4 linked regions of the Homo sapiens genome follow. The protein of the gene in region 2 interacts with the protein of the main gene of each other region in a pairwise test. Each region holds a gene or a part of one and is shown on either strand. Other genes may lie near its edges.

The links.
Region 1: the proteins of RNF144A (region 2) and RFT1 interact in binary tests that used the Homo sapiens proteins (3 or more experiments, as listed by UniProt).
Region 3: the proteins of RNF144A (region 2) and SLC61A1 interact in binary tests that used the Homo sapiens proteins (3 or more experiments, as listed by UniProt).
Region 4: the proteins of RNF144A (region 2) and SLC7A1 interact in binary tests that used the Homo sapiens proteins (3 or more experiments, as listed by UniProt).

The regions. Positions count from the first base shown.
Region 1 is NC_000003.12:53,120,431-53,127,452, reverse strand, and holds part of RFT1 (man(5)GlcNAc(2)-PP-dolichol translocation protein RFT1), read left to right. Parts: intron 1-1,458; coding exon 1,459-1,544; intron 1,545-3,612; coding exon 3,613-3,729; intron 3,730-4,889; coding exon 4,890-5,079; intron 5,080-5,652; coding exon 5,653-5,754; intron 5,755-7,022.
Region 2 is NC_000002.12:6,913,470-6,920,417, reverse strand, and holds the start of RNF144A (E3 ubiquitin-protein ligase RNF144A), read right to left. Parts: upstream 3,007-6,948; 5' UTR 2,796-3,006; intron 2,017-2,795; exon of another isoform or gene 1,736-2,016; intron 1,625-1,735; exon of another isoform or gene 1,564-1,624; intron 1-1,563. UniProt on the Homo sapiens protein: E3 ubiquitin-protein ligase which accepts ubiquitin from E2 ubiquitin-conjugating enzymes UBE2L3 and UBE2L6 in the form of a thioester and then directly transfers the ubiquitin to targeted substrates.
Region 3 is NC_000012.12:53,247,475-53,254,907, reverse strand, and holds SLC61A1 (molybdate-anion transporter), read right to left. Parts: upstream 2,814-7,433; 5' UTR 2,640-2,813; intron 2,521-2,639; exon of another isoform or gene 2,425-2,520; intron 2,091-2,424; coding exon of another isoform or gene 2,073-2,090; coding exon 720-2,072; 3' UTR 502-719; downstream 1-501. UniProt on the Homo sapiens protein: Mediates high-affinity intracellular uptake of the rare oligo-element molybdenum.
Region 4 is NC_000013.11:29,592,667-29,600,024, forward strand, and holds the start of SLC7A1 (high affinity cationic amino acid transporter 1), read right to left. Parts: upstream 3,023-7,358; 5' UTR 2,750-3,022; exon of another isoform or gene 2,478-2,749; intron 1-2,477. UniProt on the Homo sapiens protein: High-affinity, low capacity permease involved in the transport of the cationic amino acids (arginine, lysine and ornithine) in non-hepatic tissues.

The sequences.
Region 1 (7,022 bases), on a different chromosome or scaffold from region 2:
TGGGATTACAGGCATGAGCCACTGCGCCCAGCTAAGTATTGGGATTACAGGCATGAGCCACTGTACCCAGCCCTACAATCTCTTTTGATCCTTTTAATCAACCCTATGTGATAGGTAAACTCATTTGACCGAGGAAATTGAGGCTTATAACAATTAGAAGATAACAGATAGAAGAGCTAAATGGTGAATTGTATTTTTAGTAGAGACGGCATTTCACCATGTTAGTCAGGCAGGTCTCGAACTCCTGACCTCAGTTGATCCACCCGCCTCGGCCTCCCAAAGTGCTGGGATTACAGGCATGAGCCACCATGCCCAGCCATATCTGCATGTTTCTAAGGAGCAGCTACAGAGCTGTCATCAGACTCAAAAGACCACCTTTGACTCCATAACGGTTAAGATGGTGATTTCTTGGCTTTGGAGACCTTGCTGCTCTGTGATACTTTAGGTACAGTGTTACACAATGTCCCTTTTTGGTCATAGCTGTCCCCAGAGATTTTCAGACCACAGTAGTCCATTGATATGCTTAGATCAAATCTTCCAAATTGCAACTCTTCACAGATAACTCTGAGGGTGCTTGACACAGAAGTGATTTTCATTTGCTGCTGGGATGCAGAAGGGAGTCATTCAGTGAATGAGGTTTGCACTCTTCCCAGCATCCCCATTTAGCAACCCTGTTTAATTACAGTCTTCTTGTTCTCTGTGTCTCATGGGAGAAGTTCTTTGCTTAGATGGTTTTCTTGAATTGACAGATTGGAAAGTCTCAGGAAATGTCCCTTTCAAGCGGCAATAATTGGACACTCTCTCCCTTCCCCCCATGTTACATTACGTTATCTTATTTTTGCAGCATCATTTAAAAGGTATTTCAACTTCTCCCTGGAAAGAGACAAGTATTCAATAAAGAAATACATTTTCTATGTTCTAATTGAGAAAACTGAAGTTCAGAACGATATAAATGTCATTATTGAAATTCCTAGATATTATGAGGCAGAGGAGAAAAGAGAAATTAGTCCCCATGATTTCTGGTGAGTCTGCTATACCCTTAAGGCTCCCACTTGCTAAGCGTATGCTATTTCTAAACAGGCTGGGGTGGGGGAGTGTGGCCAGGGCCCGGCAAGGTGAACCACTAACTAGAATTCTCTTTCTGCTTCCTCAAGGGCTTGACTTTGTAGAAACTCAGTGAGTCTATTGGGGCCTCTTGGTTGTTATTAATAAATTAGGGAGCCTTCCAAGTGCCTTCCTGGGTTCTTTGACTACTGCACGGGAGTGCTGAGAGATCCCATGGAATGAAATTTCAGGAGAAATGCAGACAGGTTGGGCGTCTTAGAGGAGAGTCTCCATGAAAAAGCTGCTGTATGTCATTACATCACATTAGGAAGAACAGCCACATTGTTCTCATTTCAGCTAAGTAAACACTTCTAACGTCATTTATTCTTACGTATTTTTCCTCTTTTTCTATAGGTGTTGTTTCGGTTGATCACCTTTGTCTTGAATGCATTTATTCTTCGCTTCCTGTCAAAGGAAATCGTTGGCGTAGTAAATGTAAGGTAGGAGGAGATGCACCCTGGCACTGTCAGAGTTCACCTTCCTAGCCAGGCTTTCTTCAAACTCTGTACCTGTTTGTCATCCTTGGATTCTAGAAGCATGGACCTTTATCAGAAGCAGAATGTCTTAGCAGTAGGCTGAGGAGAAGCGTGCAGGAGTGGAGGGACGCGCAGGCGATGTTGCTTTTAATGGACTCATGGAGTGTTTTCCATTAGCAGCCTCCAAATGCACATTTCTTTGCCAGCTGTTCTGGTTTTCCTGCTCTTGGAAGTCAGGAAGGAGAAGAGTGGGAGTAATTCATTAAAAACTCTCTCTCAGATATAATCCTATGTTCTTGTCCTGCTGACAGCAAAGGAAACAGAAATTCAGTAGTTTGTGAGGATGCGCTTCATAATGGCAGGGCTGGAGCAGCCACCTTCCTTCCCTCCTCAGTGATTTTATAATTGGGATATGGCAACTGGGATTCGAGCTTGAGTCTTTGTCATCAGTTTCTTGGAGGCTCTTGGAAAGATGACTTCTTTGTCTTTTAGACTCAGCTTGTTTCTTCTACTCGCCTCCTTTCTGTTCAAGGACACCCACGCATATTTTGTCTTCACAAATGACACAAAGTATATGAAATGATGTGAGTGCTCAGAATAGCTCAGCTTCTCAGGTGTGTCTTCATGTCCTGATAAATAAGACAATATGTTCCAGACAGCATTTCATGTCTAATACTTACCAAACATATACTCTTGGCTCTGGTCTCAGAGCTTAGTGGCAGGACTCAAGCTTTGAGCAAAGGAATCATCTGTGGAGTTTTGCACTACATAGTGCTGAACAGGGGCCCAGGAATCTGAATTTTTATAAGCTCCTTAGGTGATTTTGAAACAGGGACCATTCTTTGAGAAATATGTTTTCTTTTCCTCTTCTTCACCTTCTTCTTCTTTTTCTTTTTTTGAGACGACAGGCTTTTGCCCTATCACCCAGGCTGGTGTTCAGTGGCGCCATCATGGCTCACTGCAGCCTTGACCTCTTGGGCTCAAGCGATGCTCCCGTATGAGCCTCCTGAGCAGCTGGGCCTACAGGTGTGCACCGCCACACCTGAATAATTTTTTTATTTTTTGTAGAGATGAGGTCTTACTGTGTTGCCCAGGCTGGTCTCGAACTCCTGGGCTCAAGTGATCCTCCCATCTTAGTCTCCCAAAGTGCTGGGATTGTAGGCATGAGCCTGAGAAATATAGGCACTTGGCCCTAAGAAATACTGTTTTAAAAGCAGGAAGGAAGAGGGGCAAATCCTCCTAGGGGCTCAGATTTTTCTCCCCAGGCAGCCTTCCTGAGATTGGCAGGTCCTGCTTTGACAGCCCTTGTCTGGCCTGCCCTGCTCCCCTGCTTAAGGTTTGGTTCCATCTCCTTATTTGCAGTGTTCCACAGAGGCACTGGGTAGCAGGATAATCCTTGGACAACCCCAGAGACCTTAACCCTGGGCTGTCCCTACTCTGGCTTCACCCAGACGGCTGTCTATTGAGGAGGGGAGATCTCAGCTACTCCTCGCTAAGATGCAGGAAGGCTCACCCAGGTGCTGCCCACCTGGGAGGTACCCAGGCACGCCTTGCTGATCTGGGTTGCAGCAGCCTCTGTAATGGTTGCCAGCCTTGTTGCCTGTCTTGAGATTCTTTTGGCCAGAGCCTCCACTCGGTAGAGGCTCAGCTTTTCTCACAGGGGCCATCGGTCACTCGTGTCAGTGTGACCAAGAAGGGTGGGGTTATAATCTTATCTTCTTCTCCTCCTTATGGTCATGGCCACACCTCTGCCTGTAGCCATGAAGGCTGAAGCCTTTTGAGGCCACTGCAGCAGTTTCTATCCTTCACGTAACTGTAGGCACACACCCTCAGGTGTCTTTCATTTGGTTCCTAACTCATTAGTTCTCATGGATCAGACCGGTAGGGGGTCCTGTAAGAGCCCACTGCCTTCCACATCACCACCAGTGGTTTATGACCAAGACTTTATCTCCTCCCTGTTGCTGGAAAAATCCCAGAAGTTCTCTCTATGAAAAAACTTGAGACCTTATTGATTTCTCCCTTTCATTTACAGACTAACGCTGCTTTACTCAACCACCCTCTTCCTGGCCAGAGAGGCCTTCCGCAGAGCATGTCTCAGTGGGGGCACCCAGCGAGACTGGAGCCAGACCCTCAACCTGCTGTGGCTAACGTGAGTTGTGCTTTGGCAGGAGACACGTTTCAGGAAGGCAGGTGTAGTGAGCATTGGAAATGAAACAGTAACACGTGCCTAAAGCTGAATTGCCCCCAGATTCAGTTTCGTCATGGGTTTCTGGGAGCAGGCATACAACAAGACGGGGACAGTGTTTGTGTCAAAGGAACTTCTTGGCTCATTTTCTCTCTGGATATCCAGGAGCCAGGAAGAGGTTCTGGGTTGGGGTTTCTGGGCCAGGTTTCTAGCCCTGGTTTCATCCTCTTTGGAGGTGGTTTCTTGCTGTTTCTGACCACCACTGTGGGCTCCACTTGGCCTGTGCCATCTTTTTTATTCCTAATCTTTTTGCTCTATAATATCTTTTGAGCTTTTAACAGCCACTTAGATTTAGTATTTCTTGAAAGCCTTTTATGGGTTTTATTACATTTTTCTTCAGTTTTGTTATGTGACTTCAGTTCTGAGTCTTTTAGGATATTCTTGAAGATCAAATACATTAGCTTAAAATTGCAATGGCTTTTCTCCAGCTAGGTCCCCACAGGGAGGGCTGGGGTTTGAGGTTATTTCCCAGTGCTGCCCTTGCATAACTCCTTATTGCCTCACAGAAATGACTGTCATGAGGGCTGGTAGGTGTTCATTTTATTAGAGGAACAACTGTTAACCACCCAGTCATATTTAAGTGCCCCATGGTACACATGTGAAACATGCGAAAGGATACTGAGCACTGCTCTGTTGGTTATTTGGGATGCAAGGAACAGCTGTATACAGTCTGTCAGTCATTCTAACAACAGGCATTTTCTTTCTGGGAATTTTGCTTATGGGGTCAGTATGTGTAACCCAGTGGATAGAAGTTTAGGCTTTGGAGTTATTGCAGGATTGGGTCTTGCTTCTGCCCTTGATTAGCTGTTCATGACCTTGGCCAAATTGCCCAGTGCCTGTCAGCCTCAGTTTCATTTTTTTAATGGAGATAATGACAGAGGATCATTGTGAGGTGTCAGTGAGATAAGCGGCGTGAATCATAGTGCCTGGCATGTAGTTAGTATCTTATAAATAAATGGTAGCTGTTTGTATTATAACTATTTTTTTCTGTTCAGTGTTACTATTTTAATATATATTTATATTTATTTTAAAATTTAGTGAATTATTTTTTTCTCCTCTTCTAGAGTCCCCCTGGGTGTGTTTTGGTCCTTATTCCTGGGCTGGATCTGGTTGCAGCTGCTTGAAGTGCCTGATCCTAATGTTGTCCCTCACTATGCAACTGGAGTGGTGCTGTTTGGTCTCTCGGCAGTGGTGGAGCTTCTAGGAGAGCCCTTTTGGGTCTTGGCACAAGCACATATGTTTGTGAAGCTCAAGGTCAGTGCACCTTCTGCTGTGAATGGGAAATGGGAAGAATAAGAAAAAGCGTTGTTTTTTAAAAATGCTTTTATAGGAGAGAATGAATGATTTTTCCAGACTTGCACCTAAAAATGTATTTAGAAAAAGATAACATGGTCAGTTAAGTTCTTACACTTGAAATTTGTCAGATGGGCTAGGCTAAAGTTCACCTCTGTTTCACCATAAATAAAAAACAGATTTGCTAATAATTTATTAGTTCAAGTCAGAATTTAGAAGGACCGTAAAGGTTTTTCAGATTTTTCTAGTGGTTATATTTAGTTGTATACTAACATTAACTTTTCTCTCTTCATCTTTTATAATAGATTACAAAAGAATATATATTTAATGTAAATCTTAAAGCATAATATACTGAAAGATCCATGAACCCACCACCCTACCCAAGAAGTAAAACGTTACTGATACTTATGTCCAGCTGTGTGCCCTGCCCCCACAGCCAGGGTGACCACTGCCCTAGATTTTCTGTCTATCATTCCATTACATCTTGACTTTTTGATGATGTTTGTAAACTGCACCTTAACCACATGTTTGCAGGTGATTGCAGAGAGCCTGTCGGTAATTCTTAAGAGCGTTCTGACAGCTTTTCTCGTGCTGTGGTTGCCTCACTGGGGATTGTACATTTTCTCTTTGGCCCAGGTAAGAATCATGGCTTTTAACTTTTTATATGATCTTTGTTTCTCCAACTGGTTTTTCTTCTTGTTCCCACCGCCGTGTGGTCTGCATTCACAGTACCCATGCCTGTGCAGGAGGTGGAAGCACCAGAAGGGTGGCCTTAGCACTGCTTCTCTAGCTGCCAGGTCCATTGTGTTCCATACACTGAGACCGTAGGTGTTTCTAGGGACCTGGTGAGGGCCACACACTGGACTTCATTGTCAAACATCAAAAACCCCTTTTAGACATTCAGTGGGCAAGCCTGTTTCAAACTGATCTTTGGTCATCTGATAGTCTTGTAAAGGAGAAAAAAATCAGTGGGGGGTGGGGTGGGAATCAAATTGTATATGTATTATTTTCCCTGGATTTCCATCTTTTTTTTGCAGAATAGGTGGAAACTCTGCCAAGCCTGTTTTAAACTTAGTTTGAAATCTCACATAATTCAGAGGGCATGAATCAAGTCAGAGTAGGTATGTGTTCAGTTTTAGCAATTTAGGCTTCATTTCCATCTCATTGTTTCCTAGTTCTAGTTCATATTTCTGGTTCTAATAAAAATACAACTAGAGTACAAGTGCTATTTTTAAAAATGAAATTTAAGATCAGATAGTTACCAGAACATTTTACAGTGCAAAGCAGTTGTAGTTTTCATTAATGTTTAGGAAGATAAATTAAGATTCTTAGTAATGATTTATGTAAAGGGTACTTCTCACAGAGGACACTGGCATCAGGTGGGTGGCTCACAGCAGTGCCGCTGGAGCTTTAAGGGCTTGGAGCATGAAGAAAGAAGGCTGGTGGATGATGGGCTTTGTCTCAGGCATGGTTGGGAGTGGAGAGCAGAGGGGCCCACACCTACTAAAGTGAGACTCTTCTTTTTCCTTGCCCTGTGCCTTTACTACAGGAGCAGCCTTGATATTGCCAGGTTGAAAGCAAGTCTAGAGGTGCCAGTCTTTCTTGAACCAGTGTGCACTGCTGTTCTCAGGAGGGAAAGAGGGTCGAAGGGAGCTTGTGAAAAGGGGCTTTTTTGGACTTTCCTCCTCAATCTGCAGACAAAACCCATCTGGCTGCTCCTGGCCAGAAGCCATTCTTTTGTCCTGGATGGGTGGAGGGAGGGGTGGGCCCTCTTATCACCCTACCCTTTCTTCCCCTATCTGTAGTAGCTCTTGCCCTGGCGAAGAGGAGAGAGCCAGCAGCTCAATTGTGCTTTGTAATCATTAATGGCACAGGTTTCCGGGGTTTATAGAAAACCCACAGTC
Region 2 (6,948 bases):
AAGCTGATGCCAGGGCTGGACCAGCCACAGCTTTTCATGTGGCCTGGGCTACCTGACCCCTCCTTTCCAAGCTACGAGGTTCCCATGGTTACAACAAGGGTTCATAGGCCAGGTGGGTGCTGGCCCACCTGGTTCTGTGATTGTCAGTCTCCAAGGGCAGGCTTCCTTCCCATCTCTACCCCCAGAGGGAAAGGCTTCCAGGAGGGAGAAATGTGAACAAAAGTAGGCAGTGGGGCCACGTGGTGGACCACAGGGGAAAGAATGTTCTCAGAGGCAGGCAACGTAGCTTGTAGCTCCCAACCCTGCCGCCGCCTGCCAGAGTGGCACTTCTACCCCTGAACCTCAGCAGCTTCAGCCAAACAGTGTGAGGTCCCTTCAAAGTCCCAAACCACACTGAATCCCCAGGAGACGTGACTTACTCTAGCAACAGTCTGGATACAGGGATTACCAACTAGCAAGCTGAGGGCACTGGAATCTATTTATAAAATATATGCATTTTACAATGCTCTTTGAGTTTCCCAAATCCTCATGGCACAGATGACCTGGGGGTGCCTGCATCGTGCATTTGAGTTTGCCCTTCATTAGTTCCTCTTCCAGAGTTGCTGACATTAGAATCGGGAGCTCTTTAAAAACACAAACTGCAAAAATCAAATTGCACTGGGTCTGGAAAATTTCCATCCCATTAAAATTGGGTTATTTGCACCCATTTTCTCATGAGGTCCTCAATCCATCCACAGCCTTTGATGCCTGATGCAGGTGGAAGCCCACAGCCAGTGGGGGTCTGACTCGGAAGCCACAGTAAGGCACACCACACCATGCCTTCCCTTCCACGCAACACCGCGGAAATCACTCTAAAGCAGGGCTCAGATCACCCTCCTCCTCCAAAACCATCAATGGCTCCCACTGACACAGAGTCAAACCCAAAGTCTTGGCCTAGAATTCAAAGATTTCATGATTTATCCTCTTCTGACCCCTCTAGTCACATTTCCTTTGCACGCTTTAAAAATAAAAACAAAAATGTAAAAGGCATTAGAAAAGTGCAAAAAACAAGGTTCCCTAATCTCAGTACCGGAGAAGAGAATACAATAAAAAAGGCTGTTGTCTCCTTTGGAGCCACTGGGTGAATCCCCTGGGAAAGTTCACGGTGTCACACACCTTGTCCCTCCCCCTTCCTGCGCTGGAGCAGCTCTCTCTGGACAGAGGCCCTTCCTGCCACCTCTGACCTGCCCCACCTGCAAGCTTTGACTCAGACACCCCCTCCCTTGCAAAGGGGACTCCCTTTGCAGGGACACCCTGACTCCCTCCCTTCCCTCCTGGGGGCTCCCACAGCTCCACAGGCGTCTACACCAACTTACTTTCTACCTGGCATTTCATTTACAAATCCATCTTATCTGCCAGGCTCAACTCTCAACCCCAGCCCCATTCACTGGGGCATGTCCTCCTTCCATCTCCCAGGCCCCATTACGGGAAGTGTTTTCTTCCCAGGCTCTTAGTGCAGGAGCTAGACCCCCTCTCACCGCAGGGCAGCAGGGATCCACTGGGGATAGTTCCCTGGGGCCTTACCTCACTCCTCTGTTACCCCAGCCTTGATCCTGCAGGAGGCAGCGCAGGATGTTTGTTCAATGGATTTTTTTTTTTTTTTTTTTTTTTTTTTGAGACGGAGTCTCGTTCTGTCGCCCAGGCGGGAGTGCTGTGGCGCGATCTCCGCTCACTGCAAGCTCCGCCTTCCGGGTTCACGCCATTCTCCTGCCTCAGCCTCCCGAGTAGCTGGGACTACAGGCGCCCGCCACTGCGCCCGGCTAATTTTTTGTATTTTTAGTAGAGAGGGGGTTTCACCGTGGTCTCGATCTCCTGACCTCGTGATCCGCCCGCCTCAGCCTCCCAAAGTGCTGGGATTACAGGCGTGAGCCACCGCGCCCGGCCAGTTCAATGGATTTTAAAAATTATTATTCTCTAGAAAAAAGACCACGAACTTTGGAGTGGACATCCTGAGACCTGCCTACGAAGACCATTAGGGTAAAGAAGTCACCCCTTCACCCCAGGACCAGGAAGCCTCCAGGATGGCATAAGCGACCAAACAGCTGGGAGCCAAGCACAGTGCAGGGGGCTTGGGGTCGGCGGCCGGAGGCTGGGGTGGGTAAGACCCGCAGGGAACTCCGGGGCTCGGGCGGCGGCTCATTCCCCGGGAAAGGGCTCGCGGTGGGGACCAGGGGCAGTAGCAGCCGCGGACCCCGCGCGCAGGGGATGTGCGGGGCATCCTCTTGGCCAGTTCCGACCTTCCCCGCCGGTGGCGATGCCCCGGACGCGTCGTCCTTTCCCAGACCTCCTCTTGGGGCCGAGGCTCCAGCCCCAGGGTCTGCGGGCGGGGCCGCGAACCTTGAAAGCCCCCGCCGCCAGCTCGCCCGCGGGACCCTGGCCCGGGGCGCCCTGTCCCGCGCCGCAGCGCAGACCCGCGACCGCGCAGGGCAGGCAGGGGGACGCCAGGTCCCTAAGCGCCCACTGCCCTGGGGCGCGGGCGCCGCCTGCGAGAGGCAGGGCAGGGCAGGAGCAGAGCAGGGACGAGGTCAGGGACACGGGCAGGGCAGGGCGGGCGTCCTCTGAACGGAGCCCGCGAGTCCCCGCCCGGGACGCTGCCCCCCGCCCGCTGCCACCGGGCGCCGGGGCAGGACCCAGCGGGGCAGGCGCGGCCGCAAGCCCCGAGCCCCAAGGCCGGCCGCGCAGCGCCGCGTCCCGCCCTCCCCGCTCCGCGGCCGGCCCGGGCGATGCGGACACAAAGGGGACGCGCGTCACTCTACCTGGGCCTGCTCGTCCGCGGTGCGCGGCTCTGACGCCTCCGCCCGGTACTGGCTGCGGGGTGCCGGGTGCCCGCAGTTTGCCGCCCGCGCCTCCCCGCGCCCGCGCAGCCCGCACGGCCCGCACTGCAATGCCAGCCCTGCCGCCTCCCGCCTGCCGAGAGCCCGCGCGGGGAGAAGCGGCTGCGCGGGCGGGGCGCGAGCGCGCACAGAGGCCGGGCACGCGGGAGGCTCGGCCCCGGCCCCGCCCCCGCGCCGAGCCGCACAGCGCCCCCTGCCGCCCGCCTGCGCCGGCCCGAGGCCCGGAGCCGCCCCGCAGGCCCCAGGACAGGCTCCGGCACGAGGAGGGGCTGCGGAGACCGCCCGTGCACGCTAACATGAAAATGCTATTCCTGCTTTAGTGGCCTCCAGAAGACACTCCCCTGATTCCTACACCGAGGGAACACACAGCAGCAAGCTAGGAAAGAAGGGGTGACCCAGCCCAACGCTGTAAACCAGGGCGCGAACCGGCGTTGAGCTGTGCAGCTGCGCCCTGGGCTCCAGTCCTGCTCTGCCGCAGACCCCACCGGAGCCAGCACCTGCCTCCCCGACCCTCGCTGGGGCGGCTGTGAGATGAGCCCAGAGCCTTCCTGAGCCAACCCTCGCAAGGAAAGTCTGTCTGTTCACCCCACTATCCTTGTCTTGAAGGATGAAGAAAAGAGGGCCCCCCGGGAGGTCCCAAAAGGTGGAATGGACATCTGGGATCCAAGCACAGCAATTTCTTTATTTTTCTTAAGGTATCCAGCTTGTTGGAATCTAAGATCTGCGAAGGTATTAATAGAATTCCTGCATCTTCTGCCACTCCCCATAGAAGCTTGAAGTTACACAAATGTTAAATTATACGTCAGATGTGCATATATGAACAAAACCTACGAGTGTGCATGAAATAACACCTTCTTAAATATATAGATTCTTTTTTCTGCAATATTAAATGGAAACCCCACTAGAACATCGTTTTTCCTTAATAGCATACCCTCCACACTGTGTGGTCTAAATTCAAGCTCTACCACCTACTAGCCATTAAGCAAGTTATTAAGGTCTTCGTGCTTCCATTTTCTTACGTGGAAAATGAGGTGGCAATAGTATGTATGAGTTCTTCGGAGGGATTAAACAAGTCAAATAGGCCAAGTGCCATGGCTTACACCTGTAAGCCCAGCACTTTGGGAGGCCAAGGCAGGAGGACTGCTTGAGCCCAGGAGGTCAAGGCTGAAGTGAGCTGTGTTTGCATCACTGCACTCCAGCCTGGGCAGCAGAGTGAGACTTTGTCTCTCAATAAATAAAGAAATAGTCAAATTAAATATAACTGGCAAACTAAAACAACTCCATAGTCCTTAGCTACAATTTGTCTCATTTCTCCAAAGAATTAAATCAGATGATTCTTAACTAACTCAAAGCTCTGCATAATTTGTCTTCTGCTACACATACATCTTTATAGTAAAATAAAATAAAGCTGTCCCCTCTGTATTGAGAAGTTATTCTGGTAAATATTTGACCTCTTCAAATATATGAACGAGCACTTGCCTTCTAATGCCTCAGTTTCAGATTCTTTTTAGAAATGTCATTATTCAAGAAAAATGCACAATGGGAAGAATCTTAACAACAGCACTTTGTTACTTCAGCCTCTCACTAGAGGATGAAAATCGTTCTGCATAAAGGCCTGGGCTTTATGAAAAATATATTCACACCTCCCGTGTCCGAGCTGGGATACCAAAGAAGTTCCTGGTTGAGTACTACTTATGAATGAAGGATTCAGGGGATGCACAGGTGGGTGACTGCAAATGCACAGACGTTGTGCTGTGTTCCCCACAATAAAGGGGTCTGTATTAAGATGCAGGCATTCTCATGGAACACAGACGTATAACACTCAAGCTGGGGGACTGCAAAGGAGCATCTGGGGCTGCAGGAAGAGAGTTAAGGTGCAAAAATGCCCTGACCCAACTGAGACTTGTAATTGCTCATGTGGTAATACATGTGACTTCATTCCCCTGCTCTGTCTTTGTGAATGCAACCATTGTTGGGGAGATAGTGAGAGGGGACACTGGCATTGAAAGTTTTGTTTGCAGCAGGCCTCAAAAGGCACTCAGATGCAGATTTCCCTGCAAAGACTTCCCGGCCTATCATGGAGTTCCCCATCCCTAGATCTCTGATCTCTGAGCTGGTGTAATACTTAGTCTTTGTCTGTGTTGATCATGGCATCTGCCACACTTAATGTTTGTGGCATTCACTTTCTGATGCTTAGATCTTACGATTCTAGAGAACAGCATTTTTCTACATATTCCCTCTTAGGGCCTTGAACATAATAAGTGCTCAATAAATACTGAGTGAAATCCTCTACTCTGAGCTTTGCCTCTGAGCAGCTGTCCTAGTTCTCTCCAACAAGAAGTTTGTTGGGTCTCTCAAGTTCACTTCCACCTGTCACTGTCAGTTTTCAGTCCAGCCCCTTACTCAGGTCTGGCTGGCCCATCTCCCCCAGAGGGCTGTCCCATAGAGCCCATTGTAAAGGACACTCATTGTTGCCAAGAGTTTGTGCCAATGCAGTATGACTCACCCTTCACTCATTGAACAAGCTCTTCCTGATTACCTAGATGGGCAAAATTTCCCTGCTCATGCGAAGCAGGCTGGCGACTCAGTGCTGCAGCAAATGGCCCAGAAGCTGGGAAAGCAGATAGCCGTTCTGACACTTCTCTTCTAGACAGAAAATCAAGGGAAGCTCAAGACCCACACTTGAATTTTTTTTAAAAAATTAGACAAGGGGCTGGGTGTGGTGGCTCATGCCTGTAATCCCAGCACTTTGGGAGGCCGAGGCAGGCAGATCACCTGAGGTTGGGAGTTCAAGACCAGCCTGACCAACATGGAGAAACCCCTGTCTCTGTTAAAAATACAAAATTAGCCAGGCGTGGTGGCACATGCCTATAATCCCAGCTACTCGGGAGGCTAAGGCAGGAGAATCGCTTGAACCCCAGAGGCAGAGGTTGCGGTGAGCCGAGATCGCACCACTGCACTGCAGCCTGGCAACAAGAGCGAAACTCAGTCTCAAAAAAAAAAAAAAAGAAAGAAAAAGAAAAAGAAAAGAAAAAAAATTAGACAAGGAAGTTTATGTGAATTTGTAATCACACATTCCATAAATATAGAAAATTCACTTTTTTTATTTTAAAAATTAACAAATTCCATTTCTTGTTTCTCTAGAGTAGCAGGAAATCAAATGTCAGTTCTCATTCTGACTTTCTCTCCTTAAGGACACAGAGGAATCTGGGGGATATTATGGTTCTGGGAATGTGGAATGTAACGTCTCATCTTCAGCCCATCTGTGCTACTGATCATCTCATTCCAGAAGCCATGCCTTCTCTCAGGAGCAGACAGCACAAGACTTTCCTGCCAGAGGCACAGTCCCCAGGTGAGCCACACAGCCTTCACAGGGTAATGCCAAAGAACAGAGGAGAGTTCCTGCTACTCTCCGGGTCTTCTTGGCAAAGCTTCTGATACAGTCTGGCTGTCTCTCCACCTGAATCTCATCTTGAATTGTAGCTCCCATAATTCTCGTATGTCATGGGAGGGATCAGGTGAGAGGTAACTGAATCATGGGGGTGGGTCTTTCCTGTGCCGTTCTCGTGACAGTGAATAAGTTTTATGAGATCTGATGGTTTTATAAAGGGGAGTTCCCCTGCAAATGTTCTTGCCTGCTGTGACTTTGCTCCTCCTTGCCTTCCGCCGTGATTGTGAGGCCTCCCCAGTTATGTGGAACTGTGAGTCCATTAAACCTCTTTTTCTTTATAAATTACCTAGTCTCAGGCATGTCTCTATTGGCAGTGTGGGAACAGACAGACTAATACAGCTTCCCTTGTCTGTACTCTTACCCTTCTCCCTTCAAAAGCATCCTCTCTTTCTTTTCCAACCTTTCCAACCTCTCGAATAATCTCTGCAGTGGGAGTAGCATCCACATAAGACAGGATGCAGAGATGTCTTCAAGCAGCTTCAAACAAAACTTCAAGAAAGAAAGTGCAAGTGAAAAAGGAAATTCATCCTTCCAGTCACTTAACACAGCACTGTCACGGACACCTTGTGCCTCCTTAAAATTCGTATACTGAAGTTCTAAGCCCCAGTACCCCAGAATGTGACC
Region 3 (7,433 bases), on a different chromosome or scaffold from region 2:
AGCTCTGCTGAGAGCAATTCCATAGTTCTCAGTTTGAACTGGAGACAGCCTTGGAGAAGTTAGAAACAGAAAACTTTTGCTGATAATCCCACCTCAAAACCTCTAGCTGGGCTGGGCGTGGTGGCTCATGCCTGTAATCCCAACACTTTGGGAGGCCGAGGTGGGTGGATCACCTGAAGTGAGGAGTTCGAGACCAGCCTGGTCAACATGAAACCCCATCTCTATTAAAAATACAAAAATTAGCTGGGCATGGTAGCAGGCACATGTAATCCCAGCTACTTGGGAGGCTGAAGCAGGAGAATTGCTTGAATCCGGGAGGCGGAGGTTGCAGTGAGCCAAGATCGCGCCATTGCACTCCAGCCTGGGCGACAGAGCAAGACTCCGTCTCAAAACAAAAACAAACAAAACAAAACAAAAAAAAACTAAAAAAAAAACCTCTAGCTGCCCACTCACCAGAAACTACTGATAAGGCTACAGGTAAGGATGAGTAAATCAAATCAATGATCATTTAAAAGTGTTTATTTTCTAAATGGGAGTAACACAGAGGGAACTTTTGGCACCTTCTTTCCAGTCCATCACCCCCATCATGTCCTCCCAAACACAAAGCAATGGCAGGAGAAACCACAGGACAGTCACAAAGTCAGTCACAGAGAGATCTGTACAATCCCGGATAGCTGGAATTCAAGAGTCTGTCCCAGCTATCTTGTCCTGGAGTGGGGTTACAGCTCAGGGGCATAGGGCTCCTCAGTAGGTGAAGGTACCCGCAGCTCAGCATCATGCCTTACCACGGTGAAGAGTCCCACCACTGCCAGCAGAGCCATCACCATGACAGCAGAGCAAATGCTGAACATATTCCGAGTGCCTGTTTTTCGATCACTGTCATGGAGGACAAGGAGCCCTAGGCAAGCCAGTGAGTGCAGAGGTACCCGGAACCAGTTGAGTACACCAGCCTGCTCTGTCTCAGGGATCACCTTTCTCCGTAGGAAGCTCATGCTGGGAAAGTATAATCCACAAGCCAACTCAATAAGTAGAAAGGCTATGAAGGACTCCACCGGACTCTCCTGGCCTGGGCTGGTAGAGAAAGTCAACATGAAGAGAGAGAAGACGACGATGAGCACAGCAAGGGACAGCAGGTGCATGGGCTGAAGGTGGTACCTCTTGGAGGTGGCGATACGGTACAGGGAAGAGCCAAGCAGGCTGGCTGCCATGAAGCTGGAGAAGATAATGCCCAGAGGGGCCCCGTGTGGGTCCAGCACAGGTGTCCAGAGGAAGACAAAGATGAAGATGACACTCTCAAATAGAGCTTGTATGGTGCCCAACAGCAGCACGCGGCGGTCCGACAGGAGGCAGCGCAGGCCTCCAGCACAGGTCCTTGAGAAGGCACGCTGCCGGTCATAGTTCTCCCCCCAGTTTCGAAGGGCCAAGGCCCCTGCCAGAGCCAGGAGAGGGATGGCAGCCACAAAGGGCGCTACAGGCCCCAGCCCTATCCAGCTGGCTACAGCCTCAGCTGCCACACCTGCCACTACAGCCAGCACATGGTTCCAGAAGGCAGCTCGAGCAAAGGTAGCTGGGATCCACTCAGCAGGGAAGTCATGCCGTTCCACGTGCTCATGGATATACCAGGCCTCGAAGGCTGAGAAGAGCAGGGCTGTGGACAGCCCACCAAGTGCTCGCCCCACTAGCAGCACAAAGTAGTCTTGAGAGAGTTTGGTTAAGCAGCATAGTGAGTAAGTCAGGGAGAAGAGGACACAAGAATTCTTGCGACCCAGCCAATCCACAAGGGAGGAGGCCACTAGGCCAAAGAGGACTGTAGAGGCAAGGCCACAGACATAGAGGATGGCAATTTGACCTTCCAGGAAGTAGTAATGCTGGTAGAGTTTATAGAGGTAGGGGGCCTGAAGCCAATCAGCTGCCAGGGCCAGGAAGTAGACCTGATAGAAGTCCAGTTGAAACCGAAGGAAGGAGGGATTGCTGCAGGCCCTTCCAGGGGGTTTAGCCCGGCATCTTGACAGTTCCAGCCCCAGGCAGGAGGCCAGGAGGCCTACAAAAGCAAGGTAGGCAGTCACCAGCATGGTGGGCCCCCGGACGACCTGGGAAGAGAGGTGGGAGTCAGAGCCATATCCATCCTTCGGGCAGCACGGTCAAGGGGCTGTCTTAAGCAGATGGCAGCTCCACCCAACCCCGCTGCCAACTCCACTCCCCAAGATCTCAGACCGGAGGGACCAGTTGGGTGGGTGGGAGGAGTGGCCACGCCAAAGCTGTCTCCTAGGACACTGTGGGGCAGGGAGGGGTAAGAAGACAGGGGAGAGGACTGGGCACTCAACCCATCCTTGCCTGTGAAGAGGGAGTCCCTTTCAATAATCCCGCTCCCGCAAATTCTACTGCCCTTTCCCACAGCAGCTCCCGTACACTTCCTTCTATTACCTCCCGTCCTCGCTGCGGAGCCTCTTTTTGCCCTCAGTGTCTCATCCTCTGTCCCGGGCATCCCTCCCACCCGCGCAGGCCTCTCGAGTTGCTTCAGGGTCATGCGTGTGCATCTCAGAGGCCCACTCCTCCAGGTCACTGGCACCCCACTGCGCCCCCTAGCCCCTGCCCAGCCCTGCCACATCCACTTGCACCTCGCCCAGACTCCGCCTCACCTGCTGCCCCGGTCTGCGGGGACGCCCCGGACACGTCCGGCTCCAGGCCGCCAGGCCACCCTCCCCGCTGTGGCTCCGGCTCCGGCTCGGGTTCCAGCAGCGCTCCCGCCCCTCACAGCCTGCTTCCGGGAGCCGGGCAGGCCTCTGGCCGCCGCCATGATGGCTTCATCACGTGACGGGGGCGCGGCGCCAAAACCCCGCCCCGCCCCGCCCGCCCGCCCTCCTTCCCTTACCCGGGCGCGGAACTCCTGACGCCTGGGGTGGGTCGGGAAGGGGCGACCATAGGAGGCTGCGGTTGCTTCTCCTGGCCTGGCCTCGCTCGCTGCCATCCCGTGACACCTGCTCCTCTGGCTCTTGGATGCCTGAGGGGCCACCCTGAAATAAGTGCCAATTTTCTTTTCTTCCGTGCAGTGCTCGGGAAAGATGCCCGCAGTCCGGTAGAGCCAAGGGTTGGAGCTTCCTAAGGAACAGCACCGCTGCCCGAAGCCGAGAAGGTCTCCTTGGTTTGCCTCCTCTCCCACTGCAGTGACCTCCATGCAAGAGAAGCCAGTATGGTCCAGACACCTGAGGGAGGCGGTGTGGTGTAAAGAACTTGGAGTCGGGCTGCAGACAGACTAAGGCGCAGTCCTGCCCCTGTCACTTACCAGCTGTGTGGCCTTGGGCAAGCCGCATAACTTCCCAGTGTCCCAGTTTCTTTGAAGTCACAGGATAGCAATGCCCAAATAAAGAAGGCTAAAGTTCAGTGGCAGCATGGGGTTAAGAACTTCAGCCTTGGAGCTTAATTCCCTACCTTCTGCCACTTACAAGCTGTTTTACCTTGGAAAAACTATTTAACCTCTCTACAGCTTCCGTATCATCTCCTCAAGAGCCTCCAATGACTTCCCATCTCACTAAGGGTAAAAGCCGAAGTATTTATAATGGCCTACAAGACCCTCTGTCCTCTGACCCTCTGCCACTCCTCTGACTTCATCCCCTGCTCCTCTCCCTCCCATCTATGTTGGCTACCACCAGGGCTTTTGCACACTGTTCCCTGTACAGTTCTTCTCCAAGATATCCACGTGGTTCCCCCCCCCACCTCCTCCAGTTCTCTGTTCAAATGTCACCTGATCTTGGCTGGGCCTGGTGGCTCATTCCTGTAATCCCAGCAGTTTAGGAGGCTGAGGCAGGCCGATCAGTTGAGGTCAGGAGTTCAAGATCAGCCTGGCCAACATGGTGAAACCCCGTCGCTAGTAAAAAAATATAAAAATTAGCCAGGCATGGTGGTGGGCACCTGTAATCCCACCTACTCGGGAGGCTGAGGCAGGAGAATCGCTTGAACCAGGGAGGCAGAGGTTGCAGTGAGCCAAGATCACGCCACTGCACTCCAGTCTGGGTGACAGAGCGAGACTCTGTCTCACAAAAAAATAAAAAATAAAATAAAATTTTAAAAAATGTCACCTGATCAGAGGGGCCTTCCATGGCCCTCCTGTTTAAAATAGCAACACCACCACCTCCAGCACAGTAATCTACCTACTTTCCTTCCAATTTTCTATTCTCTCTGCTGCTTTTACTCTGCAGTACACTATGTATTTTCCTTGTTTATTTATTTACTATCTTGGCCAGGTGTGGTGGCTCACACCTGTAATCTCAACACTTTGAGAGGCCAAGGTGGGTGAATCACTTGAGGCCAGGAATTTAAGACCAGTCTGGCCAACATGTCGAAACCCCATGCCTACTAATAATACAAAAAATTGCTGGGCGCGGTGGCTCACACCTGTAATCCCAGCACTTTGGGAGGCCGAGGCGGGCGTATCATGAGGTCAGGAGTTCAAGACTAGCCTGGCCAATATGGCGAAACCCCGTCTCTACTAAAATTACAAAAAAATTTGCTGGGCATGGTGGTGTGCACCTGTAATCCCAGCTACTTTGGAGGCTGAGGCAGGAGAATTGCTTCAACCTGGGAGGCAGAGGTTGCGGTAAGCCGAGATTGCACCACTGCACTCCAGCCTGGGCAACAGAGCAAGACTCCGTCTCAAAACAAATAAACAAAAAAATTAGCTGGGCCTGGTGGTGCGCGCTTGTAATCCCACCTACTCAGGAGGCTGAGGTACGAGAATTGCTTGAACCTGGGAAGCGGAGGCTGCAGTGAGCCAAGATTACACCACTGCACTCCAGCCTAGGGGACAGAGCAAGACTTCGTCTCTAAGTAAATAAGTAAATATTTACTATCTCTTTCCCTACAGATTTTTATCTGTTTTGTTCACCTGTATTCCCTATACTTAAAGCAGTCATTGATAAGTATTAATCATAAATATTCCATAAATAGTCTATGAATAAATGAATAAGTTATGTAAATTACTATCAAAAGTACTGGCCCATATTAACATAATAACACTTATCAGTTATTATGTACCTAAGGAGTTTTAAGAAGGTTTAGTCCAACTGCTGTAGGTGAATTATCTCATCTGACTGACAACAATCCATACAGTAGGTACTAACCAGAGTTGGAAAGGTTAGGTAACATGTTTAGAGTTACATAGTAAAAGGCAGTTAGAAGCAGGACCCAATCTTTCCAGTTCCAAGCTCACATAGTTTCTGCAATTATACTAGTTCACCTACTTGCGCAGCAGATCAGTCTTTTTTTTTTTTTATTTGAGACGGAGTTTCACTCTTGTTGCCCAGGCTGGAGTGCAATGGCGTGATCTCAGCTCACTGCAACCTCCGGCTCCCGGGTTCAAGCGATTCTCCTGTCTCAGCCTCCCAAGTAGCTGGGATTACAGGCATGCGCCACCACCCCCAGCTAATTTTGTATTTTTTAGAGACAGGGTTTCTCCACGTTGGTCAGGCTGGTCTCGAACTCCCAACCTTAGGGGATCCGCGCCCGGCCTGTTGGTTTTTTTTTTTTTTTATACTAAAGCTTAGAGGTAGGGTAGGAGGGTTTGGGATTACATCTGGAGAAATACTTTCTTTTGGCCAGGCATGGTGGCTTACGCCTGTAATCCGAGCACTTTGGGAGGCCAATGTGGGTGGATTATTTGAAGTCAGGAGTTCCAGACCAGCCTGGCCAACATGGTGAAACCCCATCACTACTAAAAATACAAAAAGCTGGGCGATAGTGGCACACACCTGTAATCCCAGCTACTTGGGAGGCTGAGGCAGGAGAATCTCTTGAACTCAGGAGGCAGAGGTTGCAGTGAGCCGAGATCATGCCACTGCACTCCAGCCTGGGGGACAGAGTGAGACCCTGTCCCAAAAAAGTCTTGAACTTCTGGCCTTAAGGGTTCCACCCTCCTTGGCCTCCCAAAGTGCTGGGATTACAGGCATGAGCCACCGTGTCCAGCCTGGAGAAATACTTTCTTATGATAAAACAGCTGATTTACGCCCTACAAGTTCCAAAGCGCTTTCATCCCTAGCTGGCAAACTAGTGGAAAGTAGAAAGGGGTGATGGTTCCCATGCTTTCATCTAGAAACACTAAGATAGAAAATCATGATTTCTGACCAGGGGTGGTGGCTTGCGCCTGTAATCCCAGCACTTTGGGAGGCCAAGGTGGGCGGAACTCTTGAAGCCAGGAGTTCAAGACCAGCCTGGCCAACATGGCAAAACCCCATCTCTACAAAAAATACAAAAAAAATAGCCGGGCCATGGTGGTGCATGCCTGTAATCCCAGCTACTCAGGTGGCTGAGGCAGGAGAATCATTTGAACTCGGGAGGTGGAGGTTGCAGTGAGCCAAGATCGCATCACTGCACTCCAGCTTGGGCAACAGAGTGAGACTCTGTCTCAAATAAATAAATAAATAAATAAATCATGATTTCTGCTAGGCTTGGTGGCTCATATCTGTAACCCTAGCACTTTAGGAGGTTGAGGTGGGAGGATCTCTTGAAGCCAGGAGTTTGAGGCCAGCCTGGGCAACTAGGGAGACTCCTGTCTGGGCATGGTGGTGGGTGCCTGTAACCCCAGTTATTCCTGAGACATAGGCAGGAGGATTGCTTGAGCCCAGGAGTTCAAGGCTGCAGTGAGCTCTGATGGTATCACTGTACTTCAGCCTGGGTGACAGAACAAGCCCTGTCTTTTAAAAAGGAAAAAGCAGTGTATGGTGGCTTATGCCGGTAATCCCAGCATCCCAGCACTTTGGGAGGCCCAGGTGGGCAGATCACCTGAGGTCGGAAGTTCGAGATCAGCCTGACCAACATAGAGAAACCCCGTCTCTACTAAAAATACAAAATTAGTTGGGCAGGGTGGCACATGCCTGTAGTCCCAGCTACTCAGGAGGCTGAGGCAGGAGAATCGCTTGAACCTGGGAGGCAGAGGTTGTAGTGATCTGAGATCGCGCCATTGCACTTCAGCCTGGGCAACAAAAGCGAAACTCTGTCTCAAAAAAAAAAAAAAAAAAGGAAAAGGAAAAGAAAAAAGTCATGATTTCCCCAGGGTCACTCAGTAAGTGCCCTCCAGCCCAGTCCTGGGCTTCAGCCCCTTGAACTCATGACAGTGAGTCTCTGAATTCTTTCTTTCTTTTTTTTTTTTTTTTTTTTTTTTTTTTGAGACAGAGTCTTGCTCTGTTGCCTAGGCTGGAGTGCAATTATGTGATCTCAGCTCATTGCAACCTCTGCCTCCCAGGTTCAAGCGATTCTCCTGCCCCAGCCTCCCGAGTAGCTGAGACTATAGGCGTGTGCCACCACGCCCGGCTAATTTTTGTATTTTTAGTAGAGATGGGGTTTCACTGTGTTAGCCAGGATGGTCTCGATCTCCCGACCTTGTGATCCCCCTGCCTCGGCCTCCCAAAGTGCTAGGATTACAGGTGTGAGCCACTGCACCC
Region 4 (7,358 bases), on a different chromosome or scaffold from region 2:
CAGAAAGGGAGGCCACTAAAGTTTATCACAAGGCAGATAATCTGCCACAAATGAAGCTACTACTCTGTTCCCTCACGGGAAGAGAGGTCTAAACCCTGGGGTGGATAGCAGGTTGGCCAGGGATCTGATGCCTCCCCACCCGAGGCCTGGGAAACCTGAGGGTAGGCAGATGTCCTGAAGATCCAGGAATACCCCAGGACCTTTGAACCCCATGTATGGAGGGTCTCCATCCCACAGGACAAGTCCACCACCAGGCGGCCCACTAGAAGGCGGCAGGGGAGCAAAGGGAGGCCATGGGCAGCAAGGAGACAGAGGCTGAAGAGACCCCCCAGATTTGGCGAGAGGAGCCAGTAAAGCTAGGTGAAGGGGAAGGAGGCCAGCAGCCTGGACGGGTGGCTGCAACACACAGGCAGGCACCTGAGAGGGGCCCCAAGAAGATACATCTTCCAGCCCTGACCCTGGGGATAAGAGTTCTAAAAAGGTCAGTTGTGACTTTCAAAAAGTCCCTCTTCCATCCAACACGTTCTTTGCTCAGCCTTCCCATCTCATTAATACAGCAACTCCGATGTGCTTGGAGTCATATTTGACCTTTCTCGTCCTTCCATGAATCCACCGGCCAATCCTATTGGATCTGCCTTTAAAATCTATCCAGGTCTGCAGGGGCCAACTATACAGAAAAACACCACATCCTATCGGAAGGTCTTGCTTGGAGTGAGGACCAAGAGGCAGGTGGAGTGATAGGCATCTCTGAAGATGCCTCTGGAAGAGATAACTCCGAGACTCAAGTATCTCCAAGGTTAGAGGGAAACAATATTTTTCTCCATAACAAGGATGCACTTATTCACATTTCAAATTTGTCCCTAGGATTAATAGCAATCCCTCCAAATACATGGTTGATAATGAGAAAGGATTAATTTAATTGGACATAATTCTGAGCCCTCCAACATAATTATCTATTTGTATGGACTTTGGTTAAAATAAACTACAGACCAGAATAATCAATCAACACGTATTTAATTCCATCAAAGAATGAGTTCTTCTACCAAATAGAAAATTGTAACTCCCTGAAGTCAACAGTCTTGTCTTTCAAGCCTTTCTTTTTTTTTTTCACCTAAAGCAAGTAATCATATGTACAGGAGCACGTGGCTCTAGGATCCAGACCCAGACAAGGGAGTACATTTCTGATCTACTTACTAAGCCCTTTCCTCTTTACTCAAAACTCCTTTGACATCCTTTGAATTTTACCTTTATAATAATTAAACATGATCGTAATATGCTAAACCTATTTTTAAAACCATTTTAATCTATTGTTGACCTTTCCCCTAAGTTTCTATTCTGTTCGTGTGACTTAAATAAGACCTTTTGTTTTAATAACAGGAGGGTGTGTTCATATAAAAATCATGGTAATTTCCACTGAGATCAACTAAAAATACCAGAGGAATAAATGTATCATGGTTTCCTATTATCTGAACCAAACATAAAGGGCAAGAAATGTTAGGAAAAATCCCAGATAAATTATAATTCGAATTAAATACAATTAGGGCATTCGGCCAGAGGCCGACATACACAATTCTACTAGTCGAATGTAAGTAAGATAAAAGGCACATTCTTTAGGGAGATACACCTGGGATTGAAATCTCAACCATCTGGTAACTATGTCTGGACTAAAACCCAACACATGAGGGCATGGCGGTGATGACGTGAGTATTGGGAAATGTAGGTTATTTATTTATTTTTTTCCTGAAGGCACATGTCTGACTATCCTAGTCACACAAGTCAAACACAACTGCTGTCTGGTTCCCCCATCCCCTGGAAAGGGTCAGGAGCTGAACCAGCAGGCTGTTGTAGTACTACAGTGCAGCTGCCGCTCTGTGTACGCGCAGGTTTTAGAATGACTCTGACCTGCCCATGCCTGGGAAGTTTTCTACTACGCAGAAAGGAACACCCTGAGAATACGGTGTCTTGCTAAAGGCGGAAGAACTTCCTCTCATTCCAAACCATGTGGAGGGCTTGAGGAACCCGGCCTTTCCAGGCCACACTGGGTCACAAGGAAGCCCACCTAGGGGAGACTTCCTCAAAGCAATCTTGGGGACCCAGACGAGAGGTGCAGGCGGCGCGTCCCGGGTTCTAGGGACAAGCGGAGAGCCAGGCGCCCTAGGTCAGGGCGGCCACCGGGCGGGGATGGCAGCAGAGTCCCTGGGCCGGCCACCTGCCGCGGGACCACCCTCCGGGCGGCCGGGCAGAGTCCCCACCCACGGCTGATGACACATCCCCGGACCTCGTGGCGGGGCGGGGTGCTCTGCACCGCGCCATGTAAGGGAAGGTCTCCTCGCCGCCGGCGGGCTCCGTGTGCCTCCCAGTCTGGCCCCCGTGCCCGCCGCCCGCCTACGCACCCCGACCACCCCGTGCGTAGCGGCGCGCGGGTCCCCGGACAGGCGCGCGGAGCGGGCATCGCCAGATCGCCCACGCTTACTCACTCGGTGTTGCATCATGCACCACGCCGCGGTTTCAGGGAGCCAAAATGGACTCCGTGGAGGCGACAGTCGCATGGGCACCAGCCCCGCTCGCCCACTCCGGGGCCCGCCCGGCCCTGGTCCTGGCCCTTCCCAGAGGATGGCAGCGTTCCCGGCGCGGGGGCCCTCGCCACTCCCGCGCCGCCCTGCCGCGGCCCCACGCGGCGCCAGGGCCCCCTCCGTGATGACCCGGGCCCAAGGAGCTGCCCCCTGCGTTGGCGGGGCCGGGCACTCACCAAGCCGGCGGCGGCGGGGCTCCGGCAGGATCGCGAACAGACAGACTGTCGGACGCGCTCAAGGACCAACGGACGCTCGGCCGGCGAGACCGGGCGGGGCGGGGCGGGGCGGGGGCGCGGCGCGCGGGGAGAGGAGTGGAGGCTGCGGTTAGCGGGAGCCCGCGGCCGCGTGCGCGCCTGCCAGGTAGTTGACCCGCTGCTCACACCTGCCTGCGCGGACTGAATGGGCGCCGAGGGCTGGCGGGTTCCGGCGCCAGGTTTCATCAGCAGTGCGCCCGGCCCCCGCCCCTCGCGCTCCGCGCCCCGCGCCCCACGCCCGCCCCCGGACCAGGCAGCCCCGGCCCGCTCGGCCGCGTCACCGCCGGGCACCAATGGGAGCGCGGCGCGGCGGCGGCTGCCAGCCCAGAGGCTGCGGCCGGGGACCGACGCGCCCTTGGTGGGCGGGGCGGCTGAGTCTTCGCGCGCCCAGCGCCCCAACCTGGGGTTCCCGCGGCGGGCGGGCGGGCTGCGCCTCCGCTCGCCTTCTCAGTAGCTCCGTAGGCGTGTGGCCGTTTCTCCGCCAATCTGAGCGCACCGCGCCACAGCATCCTGTGGTCCCCTGCAGATCCCACAGCGCCCTGGCCAGAACTAGTGCTGCAGGTCCGGCCGTGCCAACCCCCTCCCGGCGGGCCCCAGGGAGCTCACACGGAACTCGAGACCAGTTTTCCTTCTCCAAAATAAAAGATTTGGTATGCACTTAAAAGGTTTAAACTGTTTTCTTTTCATTTTAGAGACAGGGTGTTACTCTATTGCCCAGGCTGGAGCGCAGTTCACCTTAACCTCGAAATCCTGGCCTCAAGCGATCCTCCCGCCTGGGCCTCCCAAAGCGCCCTAGGATTACAGTCCTGAAACACTGCACCGGCCTAAAAATTATTATAAATCTTCATGTCTTTGTTATTGGATTATTTTATTACTATTCCTTTGCCCTTGCTAATACCTTATCCTTGCCAGTTGTCAGAAGAGCCCCAAAGCTTGAATCTACCTGTGCCCCCTTGGCAGTGGCAAATGCACAAACGGCTAGTCAGAACGGCTCACTTTTGCAGTTACCCCCCAGGAAGTGGCAGAAGCTTCAGTCCTGAATCACACCGTGCTCACCTTTTAAGCTCCCTCCTTGTCTCCTTTTGTACCAAAAGCCAAGCGAGAATCATAATCTTTAAAGATCCAGTGATCTGGGACTTGGGATAGGTAAACAGGGCATAAATTAATAATGCCATCCTTCTTCTATCTTATAGGAAAACAGAAAAACAGTGGACGGTGTCCGTGGTCTTTGAATCCTTTCTACAGGTCCTTCTCAAATATCAGCTGCTGAACTATTCCCTTGGAATTAGACTAGCAATTTATAAAGTACATAACTGCATGGTGCTAGCTTCAGAAAAAGTGTTCTGTTGTTGTTGCTGTTGTCATTTGTTTGTTTTTTAGAGACAGGGGTCTCACTCTGTCACCCAGGCTGGAATGCAGCGGTACAATCATAGCTCACTGGAACTTCAAATTCCCAGGCTCAAGCCATCCTCCTGCCTCAGCCTCCCAAGCAGATGGAACTACAGGCTTGTGTCATCACGCCTAGTTAATATTTTTTCTACATATAGACACGGGTTTTTGATATGTTGCATAGGCTGGCCTCAAATACCAGCTGTCTAGCGATCATTTTGCCTCAACCTCCCCTAGCATCGGGACTACAGGGATGAGCCAGAAAAAGTCCCCAGAAAAAGTTTTAATGAACACATGCAGATGGCTTAGCAGTTGTAAAATGTGTTTTTGTCTTTGTTTTAGAGAGTGGGTCTCACTCTGTCACCAAGTTGGAGTGCAGTGGCAACATCATAGCTCACTGCAGCCTTGAACTCCTAGGCTCAAGCGATCGCCTCACTTTAGCTTCCCCAGTAGCTGGAAATATAGGCGAGCACCATCCTGCCCAGCTTTGTAATGTGCTTTGAACAGTGCTTGACATCATAGTAAGCCACCATATATGCTTTGTTTTAAAGCAACAAATCTGGCCTGTCACGGTGGCTCACGCCTGTAATCCAGCACTTTGGGAGGGCAAGGCAGGCAGATCATGAGGTCAGCAGATTGACACCATCCTGGCCAACATGGTGAAACCCCGTCTCTACTGAAAATACAAAAATGATCTGGGCGTGGTAGCGCACGCCTGTAGTCCCAACTACTCGGGAGGCTGAGGCAGGAGAATCACTTGAACCCAGGAGGCGGCGGTTGCAGTGAGCCAAGATCGCACCACTGCGCCCCAGCCTGGTGACAGAGCGAGACTCCGTCTCAAAAAAATAATAATAAAAATCAATAAAAAATAAATAAAACAATGTATCTTAGTTCAATTGCACAGTGGTGAAATGATGCCTTCCATTCACAGAAGATCTCCCAGATCCCACGCAGCCTACTCTGTCTGCTGAGGCCACAGTAAGCATGTCCCCTTCTCACAGAGAGAAGCCTGGTAGGATTAAAGACCACCTGCTTTGCCCTTGGCACCAGATCAGGATTTGAATCTGAACTCTACCAGTTCATTTGCTGTGAGAGCTTCTGCAAACTATTTCACTCCTGTTTGGAGCTTGTAAATCTTATATTCTTAAGAAAAAAATCTATCCCTTGGTGTTTGAAATATGACTGTGGAATTTTCTCTTTCTGCCTCTCTTTCTTTCTTTTTCTCTTTGCTGACTTCTGGCAGTAAAATAGAATTTCATAAATTGTAGAGATGCTCTCCTTGGGCAACACAGAGCGCCAACATGAGTTAATGTTTGTAAATTCTGAGAGCAAGTGCTCCAGGCCCTGATGGGAGTATGGTGACATTTAACCCAGGAGATTTTTAGCACTGTGCTCCGTTTAGCAATCCCACTCAGCAAGGTCCTGTCTTCAAAAAGACAATAAGACAAGCCCCATGAGCAAGTGACTTCTCAGCAAAAAGGATTCAGTATGAACCAGGGAAAAAATAGTTACGCACAAGATCTCAGCAAAACATTAGAGGATGCTGATAAAGAGGGCTACATGTTTTAAGCAAAGCCAGTTTTTAGGCAGGTCAAGACTCACATTACAGGTTCAGAGAAACCGTGAGTGACAGGCAGCCTTGATTACAATCAAAGAGCAGCTGCCCAAGATTCCAGCAACCATTAAGAAAGGGAGATGCTACAATTTAGGCCCTAGAGAGCAACATCTAAGGTTAAGGTTGACATACTAAGTCTCTTTCTAGCACCATTAGGCACCTTGGGGGCAAGGAAAGTGCACAGAATCAAAGCCAGGCAGATGTGGGTTTCAATTCTAACCAGCTGCTGGCCTGGGGAGAGGGGCCCTGCTCACTCTGTGCCTCAGTTTCCTCATTTTCGAAATAAGAATTTTACTACCTGCTGGATACATACGAACTTCATGGTAAGGATGAAAAATGTGTATAAAGATGAACAGAATATAGAGCTCAGAAATAGACTTAGTTTGTTTTGTATTGCTATAATGGAATACTCGAGTCTGGGTAATTTATAAAGAAAAAATGGTTTATTTGGCTCACAATTCTAATGGCTGGAAAGTTCAAGATTGGACATCTGCATGTGGAGAGGGCTTCAGGCTGCTTCCACTCATGGCAAAAGATGAAAGGGAGTGTGCGTGTGTGCAGAGATCACATGACAAGAGTATAAGCAAGAGGGAGAGGAGAGAAGGGCCCGGTTCCTTTAAATAACCAGCTCCAGAGTCATCTAATAGAGTGAAAATTCATCTCCCCGTCCCACCTACCCCCAGGAAGGACATTTCATGAAGGATCCACACCCGTGAACCAAATACCTCCCATTAGGTTCCACCTTCAACATTGGGGATCAAATTTCAACATGAGGTCTGGAGGGCACAAACATCGAAACCCAAACAGTAGCCTAGACCCACACAAATAGCTGATCCAGAGTGGCTAAGACAAGTCAATGGAGACAAGATAGTCTCCTCAACAAATGGTCCTGGAACAACTGGACCTGGACCGCCACATGCAAAAAATAAATCTAGACACAGACTTTAACATCTTACACAGCAATTAACTCAAAACAGATCATAGGCCTAAATGTAAAACACAAACCTATAAAATGCTTAGAAGATAACATAGGAGGAAATCTACCAATGGCTTTTTAGATACAACAGCAAAAGCATTATCTATGAAAGAAATGATTGCCAAGTTGGCCTTCATTAAAGTTAAAACCTTCTGGTCTGCAAAGACAATGTTAAGGCAATGAAAAGACAAGCCACAGGCTGGGAGAAAATCTTTGCAAAATACATATCTGATAAAGGACTGGTATCCAAAATACACAAAGGACTCTTAAAACTGAGTAATAAGAAAACACCTCACTTTAAAAACACAGCAGGGCGCGGTGGCTCACGCCTGGAATCCCAGCACTTTGGGAGACCGATACAGGTGGATCACCTGAGGTCAGGAGTTTGAGACCAGCCTGGCCAACATGGTGAAACCCTGTCTTTAATAAAAATACAAAAAATTAGCCATGCATGATGACAGGCACCTGTAATCCCAGCTACTTGGGAGGCTGATACAGGAGAATCACTGGAACCTGGGAGGTGGAGGTTGCAGTGAGCCAAGAGCACGCCA